2 separate regions of the Homo sapiens genome follow, and region 1 is linked to region 2. The links come from fine-mapping of genetic effects on gene expression. Tissue or cell type: whole blood. Region 2 holds a variant in brackets; the other region holds the start of a gene. All regions are shown on one strand. Distances are from middle to middle.

The links. PIP is the estimated chance that this variant, and not a neighbour inherited with it, causes the effect.
Region 1: it holds the start of TOM1, and the variant in region 2 is fine-mapped to the expression of TOM1 in whole blood (INTERVAL, PIP above 0.99).

What each region holds. Positions count from the first base shown.
Region 1 is chr22:35,295,242-35,303,418 of GRCh38, forward strand. TOM1 (target of myb1 membrane trafficking protein) reads left to right here and starts at 4,653. Exons shown (of 15, transcript NM_005488.3): 1 at 4,653-4,739. The coding sequence starts at 4,688. It overlaps HMGXB4 (HMG-box containing 4), which reads left to right. Exons shown (of 11, transcript NM_001003681.3): 11 at 1-566. RefSeq lists enhancers at 4,228-4,750, 4,677-4,826, 4,751-5,273, 5,227-5,386, 5,797-6,318.
Region 2 is chr22:35,330,305-35,338,481 of GRCh38, forward strand. It overlaps TOM1 (target of myb1 membrane trafficking protein), which reads left to right. Exons shown (of 15, transcript NM_005488.3): 8 at 43-176; 9 at 2,677-2,710; 10 at 3,100-3,193; 11 at 4,024-4,144. MIR3909 (microRNA 3909) reads left to right here and starts at 5,336; the gene lies at 5,336-5,454. MIR6069 (microRNA 6069) reads right to left here and starts at 6,495; the gene lies at 6,417-6,495. RefSeq lists enhancers at 56-556, 6,511-7,420. The variant A/C (reference allele first, on the strand shown) is at 3,788.

The sequences.
Region 1 (8,177 bases), 35 kb before region 2:
CAGGGCTATGTTGCTTAAAGGTAGTCTGGCTGCTGAATCCCTTTCTCAGCTCAGAGCAGTTTTAAGATTTAATTGGGAATACAGAGAAACAGGATTGTTTGAGAACCAAAATCAAGAGGAACAGAAATCTTAACTTGATTTCATGTGTTAGAACATTGTACCATGCCTCTTCTGTATCTGTGGAAGTTTCCTGTTTGACACAGGGTATCTAGGAGGGGCGGGGAAGACATGGATAGTATAGGAAGACATTAATCCTAGCATTGTCATTTATATACATTAATGAAATCCTGATGAGGACCTGCTTTTTGTTTGTTTTCCTTTGAAACCCAGCCCTATTGTATTTGTATTTAAAATTTGTACACATTTGTATAATAATCTGTACCTTGTGGTATTTGGTACTATTAGAGGAAAAACTTTGGATTCAGACCTTCTTGCAGTTTTTATATCATTGTTTTATTTTGTTTTTTAAATAAATTCTAGTGGTTTGATCCAAATCCCATTACAGTTGTATAAAGAAATAAAATTTTGTACTTATATTATTAAAAATCACATTTTTAATATTTGTAGTCCAGTCTCAGCTGTCTTTTCCCTAATCATGATCATCATAGTTGCTATGAAATTATAAAACCTGTTTTTCACTCTATTCTACCATAATTTTCTTAAGAAAAAAATCAACCCACAATGGAGATTAAATTTCTAATCTTAGCCATTTTCTTAATATACTCCTTACTCTGCTTCTATTAACTTTTACATTGTAGAGGTTCTCATTTTCTCTTTTGCAAATTGCAAATTTAGTGAATCTGATAATTCCACCTCCATTTATTGGCAAATGAAACTATGTGCATTATGGTGTTGGCCTAAATCAAGAAAATGTTGATTAATCTTATATAAGGGTTGCATCTGAATCATGTGCTAAATGATATGTTTCAGTACTGTCCTGTTAGCATTACAGTAATGCTGTTGATAAGTTACTTAATCTTTATAGGCTTCCAAAGTCCCATCTATAGAATAGTGTTAAAGTCACTTCCCTGTCTGTAGACCTGCAGCCAGCCAGCCTGACATGAATGTTTAATAACATTATGAACACTGAATATATGGAGATATGACCTTTCAAGGTAAAAACTTCAGTGCAAACACAAGGTGTTAAAAGTCATAAATAGTAAAATAATATGATTAATTACAAGGCTAATGTCTTATGGAAAGGCAGCAAGGAAGAGACTACCGTATCACTGAGTGACTATTAGAGTGATTTGCATACTTTGTCTCACTCATCCTCCGCCCAAAGCCTTAAGAATATTATCTCCCTTTATAGATGCGAAAAAGTACTTTTCCTAAGTTTATACTGCTAGTAAATGGCAAAGGCAGATTAAGAACAGTGAAACAGCTGACCCCAAACCCTAGGCTCTTTTCTACCCCAAGCTACTTTCAGATTTAAATCATGTCTATAATTCATCAGAATGCTTTCCATTATCTCAAGTCCTGAGCGAATGTGATTGTGGGAATGCTGTCTCAGATCTTTGCATTGTTCGGGTATCTAGCTGGCTTTCACTCTTGTCATACTATTGTCTTTAAATTTTGAAGGCAAGGTATCTTGATTTTTGTCTGTAAGCACTTAAAGGATTTAATAGATTACATTTATGCAGACTGTCAATCTTAAGAAATTTGAACATTTTAACCCTCAGTAAGGCATGATATTAATTTTACTAAAACACTTAAAAAGTAAATTGAAACACTTTTTACTAAATCAGTTTGCTCCTTATTAGCACACTTTTTAAAGACAGTTTTAATCAGTTTTGTACTAACTTTAATGTTTGCCATTTACATCCCTATCTACTATGTTGATAAAATCCATATACTGGCCAGGTGCAGTGGCTCGTGTCTGTAATCCCAGCACTTTGGGAGACTAAGTCAGGAGGATCATTTGTGGCCAGGTGTTTGAGACCAGCCTGGAGAATATAGCAAAACCCCATCTCTACAAAAACTAAAAGATATTAGCCAGGTATGGTGGCATGCATCTGCAGTCCCACCTACTCAAGAGGCTGAAGTGGGAAGACACTTGAGCCCAGGAGATCAGGGCTACGGTGAGCTACAGTTGTACCACTGTACGCCAGCCTGGGTGACAGAGACTCTGTCTTTAAAAATAAATAAATAAATAAATCCATATACTTCCATTTCTGTTTCAATAGCTATATAGTAATCAGTTTGCATGGAGTTGTTTTTCTTTTTTTTTTTGAGACGGAGTCTCGCTCTGTCTCCCAGGCTGGAGTGCAGTGGTGCAATCTCTGCTCACTGCAAGCTCCGCCTACCAGGTTCACGCCATTCTCCTGCCTCAGCCTCCCGAGTAGCTGGGACTACAGGCGCCCACCACGGCGCCCACCACCACGCCCAGCTAATTTTTTCTATTTTTTTAGTAGAGATGGGGTTTCACCGTGTTAGCCAGGATGGTCTTGATCTCCTGACTTCGTGATCTGCCTGCCTGGGTCTCCCAAAGTGCTGTGATTACAGGTGTGAGCCACCGTGCCCAGCCTGCATGGAGTTTATGATTCCACTTCCTGTTTGGGGGCATATGAGTTGTCTCTGTTTTTGTTTTTTTTTGTTTTTTTTTTTTTTTTTTTTTACCATGAATAAAGTTTACAAGAACTTGTTAAAAGCTTAAAGGAAGGGCCAGAGATGGTGGCTCATGCCTGTAACCCAGGGCTTTGGGAGGCTGAGGTGGGAGGATCACTTGAGCTCAGAAGTTCAAGGACCAGCCTGGGCAACATAGTGAGACTTTGCCTCTAAAAATAAATAAATAAAGGTTAATGGAAGAATCCAAAAGAAGTTCATGCTAAACATAACTCCATATGACCAAGCAATAAGGTTAAGTGAAGAAAGACATGGAAAGTGCCTTGACCTGAAGGTCATCTTAAATGGCCTTCTCCCCGCTTATACTCCAAATACCATTACTGAAACGTAGATCTATTTAAGCTTTCATGTGCTAGTTACTGGGTTAGACAATAGTGGGGAGCAAAACAGAAATAGTAGCCCAGCCCCCAGGGACATCCAGACTCGTGGGGGCAAAGGCATTTGTGAACAGGTCTCATGAGTGTTGTGGAAACACTTCAAAGCAGTTTTTATATTGTACAGTAAAGACATCGGACCCCATGGCTGCTCAAACAAGTGAATCTACAGAGGTGATTAAGTTCTAATTTAGGTTTGTTTTTTTTTTTAAGACACAGCCTTACTCTGTCACCCAGGCTGGAGTGCAGTGGCACGATCTCAGCTCACTGCAATCTCTGCCCCCCTGGGTCCAAGCAATTCTCATGCCTCAGCCTCCCAAGTAGCTGGGACTACAGGCGTGTACCACCACACCTGGCTAATTTTTGTATTTTTAGTAGAGACGGCATTTTACCATGTTGGCTAGGCTTGTTTTGAATGCCTGACCTCAGGTGATCCACCTGCCTCAGCCTCCCAAAATGTTGGGATTACAGGCGTGAGCCACCACACCTTGCTTAATTTAGGTTTTCTGTCATCCAAAATTTGTGCAGTCAATTTACTAGCCTTTCAGATTTAAAAACCACAAACATCACAATAAGTACTTAAGCACCCACAGTAGCCAGACTACTAAGGCCATGGTTATTGTATTTTTGGAGTACATGCCAGAAGAAAAGGTCATAACCCATAGATAGGTATCTAGTGTGTAGGTGTCAGCAGACACACCACACACAGCCAGGAAGGCTGAAGAGATTAGAATCACAACGCTGGGAAAGGCCTTTGAGATTCTTAGCTTGGGGTCCACGGTTGTACTTCAGGGACCCCAGAAACTCCCTGAGGTTATAAGCAAAATTGTATCGCTGCCTTTTTTCTTCAGAAAGGCTCATGGCTTTTGTCAAATTCTCAAAGGAGACTGTGACCTAAATAAAATATTTTTTAAAAATGGTTACGAGTCCTTGATCTAATTCCAGTATCTAGAGAAAATGGGAGCTATGTTTGGCTCACACAGTAAATTTATGGCAGAGACGGGTATTAAAGCCCCACTCGTGACTACATCTGTGCTTTTTGCCATCCTGGGCGCTAGAGGGAATTGCGCTGCAATTCATTAAATTGCCTCTCAGTCTCAACAGATGACAAACCCCTTGCCCTTGCCTCTGATTTAAGGTAAGATAATTTGGGCTGCGAGCAGGGTGCATCTTGGAGCGGGGAGACCTTGACATCAAACAGGAAGAGTCTTACCGGGACAAGGAGACAACAGCCCAGAGAGGCTGTCACCCAGGGTAGGTGTGCAGTCACAGTGAGGTCCCAAGGACTAAGGGCTATGACCCTAAGAGTCTCGGCTTCTGTGTAACTCACCCAAGTCACTTCCCTGGTCTACGACCCAGTTTCCCAAATGTGTAAAGGGTCCTTTAGACCTCGCCCTAAAAGGTCAGGGGCGTGGCTTAAAGAGGACCGCGCTTCCCGGGCCCCGACCCCAGACCCTACATCGTGTGTGACGCCCGCCGCCGCCGAGCAAGCCGCAGTGAGGTCATCGCCCTCCGCCTCGGGGGCGGGACCCTGGCGTCTCAGGGCGGGGCTTGTGGTCGAGCTTCGCGGTGCCACCGCCCCGCCCACGCCTCCTCGCCGGCCTCCGAGTGCGTCACGTGACGGGTCGGTGGCGCTGGCGGTTGCTGTCAGCTGATTCCCGGGGTTGGTGGCAGCGGCGGTAGCAGCAATGGACTTTCTCCTGGGGAACCCGTTCAGCTCTCCAGTGGGACAGCGCATCGGTGAGTCCCTGGAGCCCCCCACAGCTCCGCCCCGGTGCTCCGCACCCAGCTTCGGTCCCCTGGGAAGCCTCCGGGTGCCTAGTCACGGAGGCAGGGAGGGCAAGGAGGCTGGCGTGTAGCTCTCCGACCTGGCTCCGCCCAGCTTTCCTCCCACTCTTGATTGACAAGAACTTGGGCCATTAGGAAGCCTTGGCTTGTGATAGATGTATATGACAGCCAGTAGGTAAGGAGAGAGGGTGGGTCCGGATGCCCACGGCGCAGCCAATGTGCGTCTGCTGGGGTCCCCAATCGAGGGAGAAAGTTTTCGTGGTTAAAGGGACTGCGTGGTTGGCAGTGGCTGGGCCACTCTGCTGGGTCCCGCCGCCTGGGCTCTGGCCAGCTCCTTCCTGGCTCACCGGGCCCTCCGGACACAGACACCTGAGAAGGGCTAGAAGTCCCTTCTCCCAGGACCGCGAAGCCCCGGGCTTGGCGTCTTGGGGCCAACTGGCCAGAGGGGCCCAGCGCCGGACAGCCCGCGGCCAGGCCTCACAGACCCGGGTCTCAGGACGTGTCCGCCTGGGCTCTTTTCTCGACCCAACCTCAAATGGACCCGCACAGACTCTCAGAACCTGAGCAGACAGTGGTCGGACAAACCCTCCTGGTCAGCCCATCTCGGTGCTCCGTAGGTGGGGCAGCCGGGAACTCGGGCCAAGCCAAGCCCAGGGCACCTGGCGCCTGTCTGCTGGTCCGTGGTTCTCTGCACCCTGGTGACAGGATACTCACAGTTCTGTGACGCAGCCTCCCTGGGCCGAGGTTTCCTCACCTGTAGTTGGCGGGCAATAATGGTCCCCACCTCCGTGGGCTTGTTGTGAAGATTAAATTCCTTAATAAATGTGAAATACTTAGAACAATGCCTGGTACATGGCCAGTGCCATATAAAAAAAAACAGTTGTAATATTTATTATCACTGGGCTGGGCACGGTGGCTCCCGCCTGTAATCCCAGCACTTTGGGAGGCCAAGGCGGGCAGATCGCTTGAGCCCAGGAGTTCGAGACCAGCCTGGGCAACATGGCGAGACCCCGTCTCTACAAAAAAAAAAAAAAAAAAAAATACAGAAATTAGCCGGGCGTGGTGGTGCGTGCCTGTGCACCCAGCCACTCGGTAGGCAGAGCTGGGAGGATTTATTGGATCTGGGAGGTCAGGGCTGCAGTGAGCCCTGATGGCGCCACTGTACTCCAGCCTGGACGACGCAGGGAGAGCCCATCTCTTGAAACACATACACATACACACACACACACGCACACATATATATAAAAATATACACATACAAACATACATATACATACACATACATATATATTATATGTATTTACACACACACGTTGTTCCTGAGATCACCAAGTGAAGGTTAGGAATCCCTGGAAATCGCTTGGCAGTAGATCTCATAGGTGCTCATTCTTGGGCACCAACACCATGAGAACCGACATGCCTTCACCCAAACAGCCACACTTCTCCGGAGGATGGTTTGGGTGTTCCGCATTCTTGCATGAAGAAACCATCGCATTACCGTGAAATTACTCTTCATCTTTTTTGATGACGACTTTTCGTCTTAAGTCCAGACTGGGAAAACTTTAAGATGAGACATATTTTCCATTCTTAGTGTCTTGCGAAACCTCACGAAAGCTTGTCGACCCGGCTCTGTGTTGTAATCGCCACCGTGGCTGTCGGTGGCTCTTCCGAGGTTTTGTAATCAATGCTCTCCAAGGGGGAGGTGGCAGTCCAGGATTTACACACCAGGAAGCTCCTGAACCAGGGAGAGGAACTGCCCTCTCAAAGGACCCCTGCCCTCCCCGGACACACACCCACCCCACAGTGAGTCATGGTTTTTTGGAGCTGAAAAGAGAAGGCAGCTCTCCTCTCATCTATATTTCTCTGACTACAGAAACCACTGCTTTTATCACATGCCAAGTTTAAGACTTACTACTTAAAAATAAACAAGTAAATAAAAGACCTGGCTTCAAAGTCAGCCACATACTCTTAAGGCTTTCTGGAAAAGCTCACCTGGGTTCTGGATTTCAGCTAATCAAAGCAAACTTCTCTTCTTACCTTGAAGCGTTGCCTTTCTTGGGCAAGAAATACTTCTGTGCAAAGAGAATGCTACTAAATCATAATACCTTAAAGCACAAATGGAATTTTGCAGGTAAAAGAGCCTTACCTTGGGGATCTTCTAACCCAGTGGTTCTCATCAGAATTCCTAGGAGGGCTTGTTAAATAATGTCGGGGCCCCAACCCCAGAGTTTCTGACTCTCCAGGTCTGCGGTGGGACTCTAGAATGTGAATTTCTTTTTTTTTCTTTTTCTTTTTCTTTTTCTTTTTTTTTTTTTTTTTTTTTTGAGACTGCGTTTCGCTCTTGTTGCCCAGGCTGGGGTGCAATGGCACCATCTTGGCTCACTGCAACTTCCGCCTCCCGGGTTCAAGCGATTCTCCTGCCTCAGCCTCCCAAGGTAGCCGGGATTACAGGCACGCTCCGCCACACCCGACTAATTTTGTATTTTTAATAGAGATGGGGTTTCTCCATGTTGGCCAGGCTGGTCTCAAACCTGAACAGGTGACCCACCCACCTCAGCCTCCCAAAGTACTGGGATTACAGGCATGACCACCGTGTCCGGCCTAGAATGTGAATTTCTGTTGAGTTCCCGGGTAATGCTAATGCTGTTCCAGCCCATCCCCTTCATTTTACACTGGCGGAGACTAAGGTCCAGAGAGGGGAAAGTGGAGGCTGTGACTCATCCAAGACCCCAGTAAATTGACAGCAAAACTGAGTCATTGAAATTTAAACCAAAGCTGAAGAGGCTCCAAAAGTAGAATTAAGAGTTTGAGTTAATCCCCTCAGTATTCCATATTCTTTTAGATAAAGAGGCGGAGGAAGTACTGCTCCCTGGCTGTGATTACTGATGACACAGTATAGCTGCTTATAATTCTGTAAACCAGGCCCCTCCTTGCTGCAGGAGTACCATCTCTTCTCAAGCCTGCCGACTCCCATGCCCTTGTTGATAGTAGAGCTGTAGAGCCATATGGAATTGACATCCCTCAGATGGTGATTCTAATGATGCTAATCAGGAATGAGTGTCAGTCACTGGAATCACAAAGTTCTCATCCACCTCCCCTCCCAACACACACACACACACACCCCTTTGTGCTTGCTGGTCCCTCTGCCTGGGTTGCTTGCTCCTGTGCCCCCACTGAGGAGCTCCAGATCACCCTTCAAAGTACAGGGCATCATCACCTCCTCCCTGAGGCTTGCCCCAAGCCCGACGTTGCTCTTTTACTCTCCCTTTATCCTAGATCCTCAGGCCCCCTTGCCCTATGACTTTGGGCTCTGAATCTCCGCTTCCTCCTTGGTAGAATGTTACTAACAGCATCTGCCTCACAGGGTGGTTGCTGGAATGAAACAAGATA
Region 2 (8,177 bases):
TGAGTCATGTGACTGTGGTTGCCTCACTTCCTTTCCTGGCAGGAGCTCAACCGCACGTGCCGAGCCATGCAGCAGCGGGTCCTGGAGCTCATCCCTCAGATCGCCAATGAGCAGCTGACAGAGGAGCTGCTCATCGTCAATGACAATCTCAACAATGTGTTCCTGCGCCATGAACGGTAGCCCCAGCACCTCCCCTGGCCTCTGGCCTACTGCCCCAACCCTCTCCCTTCCCTTCCTCCCTGTTCTCCTGGTCTCATGCCATCTGAGCCTTCTCTCGTCCTCCTCTCAAACACAAGGCAGGCTCCTAAGGGCCTGTGCCCTCAGCTGTCTTCTTCCAGGATGTTTATGAGGGCCCCTCCTTCCAGCCGCCCTGTATCTCCTTTCCAGGGTTAGCGCTGCTGCCTGTGCCCAAGTCCAGCCCTGGGAGATGGTCACAGGTCACAGCTGAGAGCACGGCCCTGCAACCAGACTGGCCTGGTGTGTCCTCGCCCACTCCACCACTTCCTGGTTCTGGGGCCTTAGACAAGTGACTTCACTGCTGCAAGCTACACAAAACATTTCTGGCTAACTTAGGCAGAAAAAGAATTTGTTAGGATAATAATCTTTATTAAATGGGTAGCTTTCAGAATCCAGAGAAAAGTGAAACTGATGTCTCCCAACAGAACAAGAAAGATGGATCCCAGGGCAGCTCAGATGTCTCAGGAGCAGAAATTCCTGGACCATCTCCCCAGGGTGCTGCCATCAATAAATACATCAGCTCAAACACTTGTCCACAAACACCTGTCCACCTTTTTTTTTTTTTTTTTTTTGAGGCACGATCTTGCTCTGTCACCCAGGCTGGAGTATAGTGGCATGATCACAGCTCACTGCAGCCTCAACCTCCTGGGCTCAAGCAGTCCTCCCACCTCAGCCTGCCAGGTAGCCGGGACTACAGGCATGCACCACCACACCCAGCTAATTTTCTTTTCTTTTTTTTTTTTTCTTTTTGCAGAGACAGGGGTCTCACTGTGTTGCCCAGGCTAGTCTCAAACTCTTGGCCTCAAGCAGTCCTCCCTCCTTGGCCTCCGAAAGCATTGGTATTACAGGCATGAGCCACCACACCCACCTGCCCACCTTGTATCATTCTGTTCAAGAGTCACATCCCCAAGAGAGACTTGGATTGGCTGAGCTTCATTGTGCCTACCAGCTGGGGTATGGGAGAGGGCCCTTTGATGGCAGCCCCACCGGGATGATGTGAAATGGGGGAGGAGCAGTTCCTCTAAAGAGTACTTAGGTGCTATTACAAAAGAAGGAGAAGGGCTGGGCGCAGTGGCTCACACCTGTAATCCTAGCACTTTGGGAGGCTGAGCCGGGAGGATCACTTGAGGCCAGGAGTTTGCAACCAGCCAGGCCAACATGGTGAAACCCCGTCTCTACTAAAAAATACAAAAAAATTAGCCGGAGGTGGTGGTGGGTGCCTGTAATCCCAGCTTACTTGGGAGGCTGAGGCAGGAGAATTGCTTGAACCCAGGAGGCAGAGGTTGCAATGAGCCGAGATCGCACCACTGCACTCCAGCCTAGGCGACAGAGCAAGACTCCATCTCAAAAAAAAAAAGGAAAGAGAAGGAGAAGGATTGCTGGGTCTGCAGAAATTGTGTGCCCATCACACCTCCTCTGTATCTGTAAAATGAGGCTTGTGGCATAAGTGAGAGTCCATGAAACAGTGTCTGTAAAGCGCTTAGCAGTCCAGGGTGTCTGATAACTGACATGAGTTATTCCAGCCTCCTCCAGCCCCTTGTTCATTTTTTGTGTCTTTCTCCATCAAAAGACACTCACTGATTGATTCTAAATCAGTGGAAAGTGGGGGGTACCCTGCAGGTCACGTCTGCCTAGCTTCTCCTGCTCGTTGGCCCAGTGGAATGAAAGGCCTCTTCCCTGCCATTTTGGGGTATGGGCTGTGAGGTGACTGAGGGGCCCCATCTGGTAGCAGCTGGTACCCTCAGATATCCACAGTCATTAGGCTTAATATCTGACTGTGCTTTCAAGCTCGCAGTCACTTATACCCATGTCCTAATTTGGGCTTCAGCACTTCAGGGAGGCAGGTGCCTACAGATACTAGACAAGCAGACTAAAGTTCAGAAGGAACATAATTTACCCGAGGTCATGTGATAAGTGACAAGGCCACGACTTGAACAGACCCCACACTAAAGTCTTCTCGATCTATCACACCGGCCCCTAAGTAGCTCCATAAAACAAGATTAGAGATACATGTATCTTTCTTACAGCACTGAAGAGAGCACTAACACACACACACACACACACATACACACACACAAATATGTAATTGAAACAAGTTTCATAAGACAGTCCTTACCTTTACTGCGTGCCATGCATTCCTATTTTCTTTGCTGTTCTAACCTATTCCTGTTTATTTGTTTCATGCTACTCATGACTAAGGTTGCCTTATAATTGATCATCCAAATTGGGACACTTTTGCAAGGGAAAGAGGAGCACTGCTAGTTACCCAGGGACAGCAGGCATGAACTGGATCTGTCCAGGGCACACCAGACGTGTCATCACCCTGATCATAACCCACCGTGTTGATGTTGAGACCCACAGTTTGAAAAGCTCTGCCTGGCCGTGTGTGGGGGCCTGTCTCAGTCTGTCTCCATAACTCGTGTCTTTTCTGTCTTGTAGGTTTGAACGGTTCCGAACAGGCCAGACCACCAAGGTAAAAGTCTTCTTTTCTGTGACTAGATCAGGCCCTGTTCATGGGAAGAAGGAGTGCCATTCTCACCTCCCTCCCCTAGTAAACTGGACAGGGTGGTGCTGTCTTATCCAGGCCCATAGAGAAATCCCCTTCTAACTTTTTATGTCCCTGTCCCTTTAAGGTAAATAAGGCTGTGCCACCACCTGATGCCCCAGGGTCTCCCCAACCTCCCAGGGAGTCCAGTTGAGCTGGAGCCAGAGGGGAGGAAGGAAATTCCCTGATGCCCAGTCCTAGCTCCTGGGGCCCTGGTGACAGATCCCTGGGCAAAGCCTGCAAGCCACAGTGCTTGGGGCAGAAAGGAACGAAGCTGCAGACAGCGGGGATGATCAGGGCATCTCCCTTCCCACCAGGCCCCAAGTGAGGCCGAGCCGGCAGCTGACCTGATCGACATGGGCCCTGACCCAGCAGCCACCGGCAACCTCTCATCCCAGCTGGCAGGAATGAGTAAGTGTGGTTTGGAGGGCTCCAGCTGAGGGTACATTATGGTACTGTGGGCACCCCTGCAGATTTTCGGGGTGCCCTTGTTATATACCCACAGCAGAGTGTCAGTCTGGACCCCACCTTGCTGGGGTCCCAGGCTGAATCTTGCTGCAAGGTGGGGCACTCGGGGTCACTGCCCCTGGCAGCCCCACAAGTCCTGAGCCGCCTTGGATCTCAGAAATCCTACCATCCTAGGATTGGCCCTCTACACTGAATTCTCCATGGCTTCAATCATCTGCGTGAGCTTGGGCAAGTTCCTTAAACCTCCTGAGCCTCTCTTTCCTCCTCTTTAACAGGAGTAGGGAGCTCGTGTATGAGAAGCGCTTAGACCATGCCAGGCCCAGGTTGCACTCTGGCTGAGTAGTTGGCCATTGTCACTGTTATCACTGTGATAGGTTTTAATATAATTTACTGTCTGCTTCATGCCAAGCCCTAGGAAATCATTAGCACCCCATTTTGCATCACTAATGCTATACTTTTTGAAAAAATCGACTACCCATCTGATTACTGTCCTCCTGCCCAGCCACTTCCCCAGCAGAATCAATGGATAGCGTTTTG[A/C]CTGTTCTCTAACGCTCACAGCAGCCCCAAGAGGGGTGAGTAAACTAAAGCTGGGAAGAGGAAGCCGCTTGCCCAAGGCCCCACAGCCAGCAGCAGGTGGCCTGCCTCGCGCATTCCCCCACCCACACGTGCCACTTCCCCAGCACCAAGCCCTGGGTCTGGCAGCAGGTAGCTCAGCAGCAGCTCACACACAAGCTTGTGGATGGGTCTTTCACGTGGCCTTTCTGTCCCTGCAGACCTGGGCTCCAGCAGTGTGAGAGCTGGCCTGCAGTCTCTGGAGGCCTCTGGTCGACTGGAAGATGAGTTTGACATGTTTGCGCTGACACGGGGCAGCTCACTGGCTGACCAACGGAAAGAGTGAGTGGCCTGGCCCTGCCCTGGTCCCCTGCAGTTCGGGTGGCTCTCGGGGTTCTGGAACCCGGTTTTATGGTGGCACACCATGAGGAAGGGCACACGGACCCTGCTTAGTAAGCACGCCCTTAGTATCCCCTAAGTCAGTCCAGCATGGCCTGGGAGCCCTGTGGTCAGTTGACAGACTGCGCTCCCCACAGGCCATGCTGGGTGGGGGAGGGGGAGCCTAATGACCCACTGTATGCCAGAATCTTACATAGTCTGATCAGAGGGGGAAACTGAGGCACAGAGAGGGGCAGGCTCATTTGCCCCAGGTCAAGGAGCTAATATTTGGCAGCACTAGGTTAGGAGCCTAGGGCTGTCTGGTTCCAAAACACAGTGTCTCCACCCCCCGCCCCCCTCCCTGCACTGTGTACCGCATAGTAAGCCCTCCAGGAGCAGGGAAGTTTCCTGATAAATCCTCAGGGACTTTCAAGTCAAGTCTTTTTCTGTTGTTCCATAGCCACCGTTAATTTCCAGAGAAGATTAAGCAGGTTCTGTCAGCCTTGCCCCAGAGCTGGGGCTCTGCCCTTCCCTGTGCACCGTGCATTTTCAGGGGGTACTTTCAGCAGCATAGGCACGTGGCCTGAGTGTGTCCACCAGGGTCTGACCCCTTGCCGGGACCTGCGGGAGAACTGGCCCCGTACAGGCTTGTAAGAGGAACAGTCTGCTTGATGTTTTCTTCAGCCTTTTGCCCACTGTGACCCCCAGGGCTGAGCTGTGGGCAGCCAGGATTCTTATAGCTAAGGAAAGTTCTAGATTATGGGATCTTCCCACTGACCCCACTCAGCTCCTTAGAGGTCATTCTGGTGTCTTTTGGAACTTTGTCAATGGGCCTCCAGAGAGCCCAGGGATAACCTCTCCACACCCACAAATCCAGGTCCAGGCTGTAGCCTGCTAGGTCCTTAGGGCTGCCCTGGCTGTTAGCTGTATCTTTCTTTAGTCTGGGCAGAGTCTGTACTTTTAAGCCCAGGTACCCTGGGACCAGCAGCTGTTGCCATGGAGTTAGGGGTGCTGCCGAGGCTACCCTGCAAAGGCAAGCTAATGAGTGTGATGGGACTTGCAGCCAGACACGCCCATCCACAGAGGCCCCAGCAGGCAACACTGCTGGCCATACTGGAGAACCCTGGCGCCTGCCCTGGTCACCAGCCTGGCTGAGGTATGCTGTTGCGCTGTCCTTCCTCTGGGGAGCAGGCTCCGGGGGACAGGGAAAAGCACACAAGGAACTTGTCCTCTAGGGCCTGCAGTCTCATGGGAGAGTGACATGCACCAGGACCACCGCTGTGAAGGGCTAAGTGCTGTCCTGGAGGGGGCACCAGGCTCTGTGGACACAGAGGAGGGAGCATGCAACTCTGCGGAGGGTACTCAGAGCTGGACCAGGTGCTGGGTGATAGGAAGGCCATTTCAGGCACTAGGAACAGCATGTGCAAAGTCTCAGAGGCAGGGCGGGAGAGAGGTGCCCTGGCTCCCGCACAGCAGCTGGGAAAGATGCTCTTCACACAGGGAAGGGGGCAGGATGCTGAGAGGGTGGTGGGGCCCACTGGGCTACAGAGAGGCAGTTGATTTTATTCTAACATGAGCAGGAGGGAGCACAGGAAGGATCTTTTTTCTTATCAGATTTTCATCTTTGAAACTGCCTTCAGCTGAGCACAGCTGAAATGACATCATGCACCTTCTCAGGCCATTGGTTCTCCTGCAGGCCCTCCCCAGGGCTTGGTTTCCACCCTGGCAGAAAACATCCAGCAAGGTCAGGCGTGGACCTGAGCATCCATTTCGTCTTCCCTTTGTTCTCCTGCCTGGCTGGCCCCCTTAAATGCTTCTGGTGGATCTTCCAGCTCTGGTCACCTGACTGGCCTTTTCTGCCAGCTTGGTGTCCAGCCCGCTCCTCCCTGTACCTGCCTGGCTCCCCACTTCACACCAGCCTGCAACCAGCTCTGCCCTGGCTGGCAGGGAAACCAGCTCCTTATCAGCCGCTGTTTCTGCTCCAGCCTTGACCACAGCTGGCACCGTCACAGCCTTCCTGCAGCCAGTCCTATCCACTCAATGCCAAGGAGTAGCAGGGCTTCTGGGCGAGCCACAGCAGAGACGCCTCGGCTAGGCCTTCACAAAGGCAGGGGTGTCCTTCCCCCGCTTTGTCCGCATCTTCGTCAGTGCTGCTGTACACAGAGGCCTTCTCTACAAGGAGCACTTAGACAAGTGTCACCCCAGTGGCCCAGGTGCAGCCCCTGCCCACCAGCCCCACTGGGACCACCTAAGGAGTGACCCTCCACCCTCCTGCACTGGGCAGGGGGCAGCAGGCCCTAGCCCAGGGGTCACCACCCAGTGCAGGAGGTGCGGGCTTCCTCCAGGGAAGTGCTTGGCCCTCCACCACCACAGGCATGGCCTTCAGGGACAGCTGGGCTTCAGGGCCATGTGTGGGCAGGGGTGGCGAGGAGCTAAGCTTAGGAAGGGCAGATAGTTCTTTTTTTTTTTTTTTTGAGCCGGAGTCTCGCTCTGTCTCTCAGGCTGGAGTGCAGTGGCGCTTGCAGAGTGCAAGCTCCACCTCCTGGGTTCACGCCATTCTCCTGCCTCAGCCTCCCGAGTAGCTGGGGACTACAGGCGCCCACCACCACACCTGGCTAATTTTTTGTATTTTTAGTAGAGACGGGGTTTCACCATGTTAGCCAGCATGGTCTCGATCTCCTGACCTCGTGATCCGCGCGCCTTGGCCTCCCAAAGTGCTGGGATTTCAGCCACTGCACCTGGCCCAGATAGTTGTTTTGAGTGAAGGGAAATCATGGGTTTCTGCGTGTTCTGGGGCTGGGCATGGCTTCTTCAGCCTTGCCCACAATGCGCCAAGCATGTCTTAGAGACAGCAACAAGCACCTCCAGACCCTCAATTAGCAGGCCTTCTCTGGGTCAGAAGTCAGCAACCTGACGCCCCACCTCCCCCGCCACTGGCTTTAAGGTTGGCTCCAGCAGGGCCCTGCCGTAGTCACTGGCCCACTTGCCATGGATGGGAGCCGTGTAACCAGGGAATGCCCCAGCTAGTGGTCACACTCCACCAGCAAACTCTGCCCCTGGTGGGAAGGAACAGACAGCAGCACTCTTCAAAATGACTGCGTGGGAACTGGGGGTCATATTCAAGAAGCCCCTTTCAGTGCCAGCCTACTCCATTCCTCAGAAAGCAAGCTGGTATTGCAAGAGTTAAATGTGATGCAGTCCCAGTTCCTGAAGCCTACAGTTAGACCAGCCCCGCTTCACTAGCGTGTCAGGTGGCCTTGTTCCTAACAGGAATCGCAGGCCTTTCCCTTTGTGACCAGAATTCTGTGGCTTACTTCTTTGCCTCAAAGCTGCACTGAGCCAGTGCTGAAGTCCTGTCTGCCGGCAGTTCAGGGCGAGAATAACAGGGCTCTTTCCCTGCAACAGGGCTGGGTCCCCAACACCTGCCCTGGGCACCCCCACTGCGGCAGCTGGGAAAGACACCATAGCCGCCTCTCCTCCTTAGCCAGCTTCTCCTCTCACTCAGGTTATTCTCTTGCTCCCCAGGAGACTTAACCTCACACACAACATACCCTTCCTTGCCTCTCCTCATCTGCCCAGCAACTGTGGGGTCAGCCTCTGCCGCTCCCAGCCCATCAGCCTTGCGTGCCCTCCCAGTTCCTGCCTCCCCACCCTGCCTAGCTGGCTGGCACCCCCCAGAGGACATTTAGAAGAGCTGTAACCAAGCCACCTCCCATGCTGCTGAGACAAGGTGGGGGCAGAGTCATCTTTGTGCTGGTGAGCCAGTGCAAGACAAGATGGCACCTCACCCAGCAGTTTATAGATGTGTTTTCAGCAGCAGAATGGAATCCCCCATTCAAATACGACCTCATACACAACCACAGTCTATAAAATAGGAAACAAGATCTGCTCAAGAAAGGGTCTGCTGGGAATTCTCCATGAGCCTACGGGCACTGGAGCTATTTATCAGTCTCCTGAGTTTGGCCAATCCTGGTCATAGCCATTGGTGGTCTTGGTC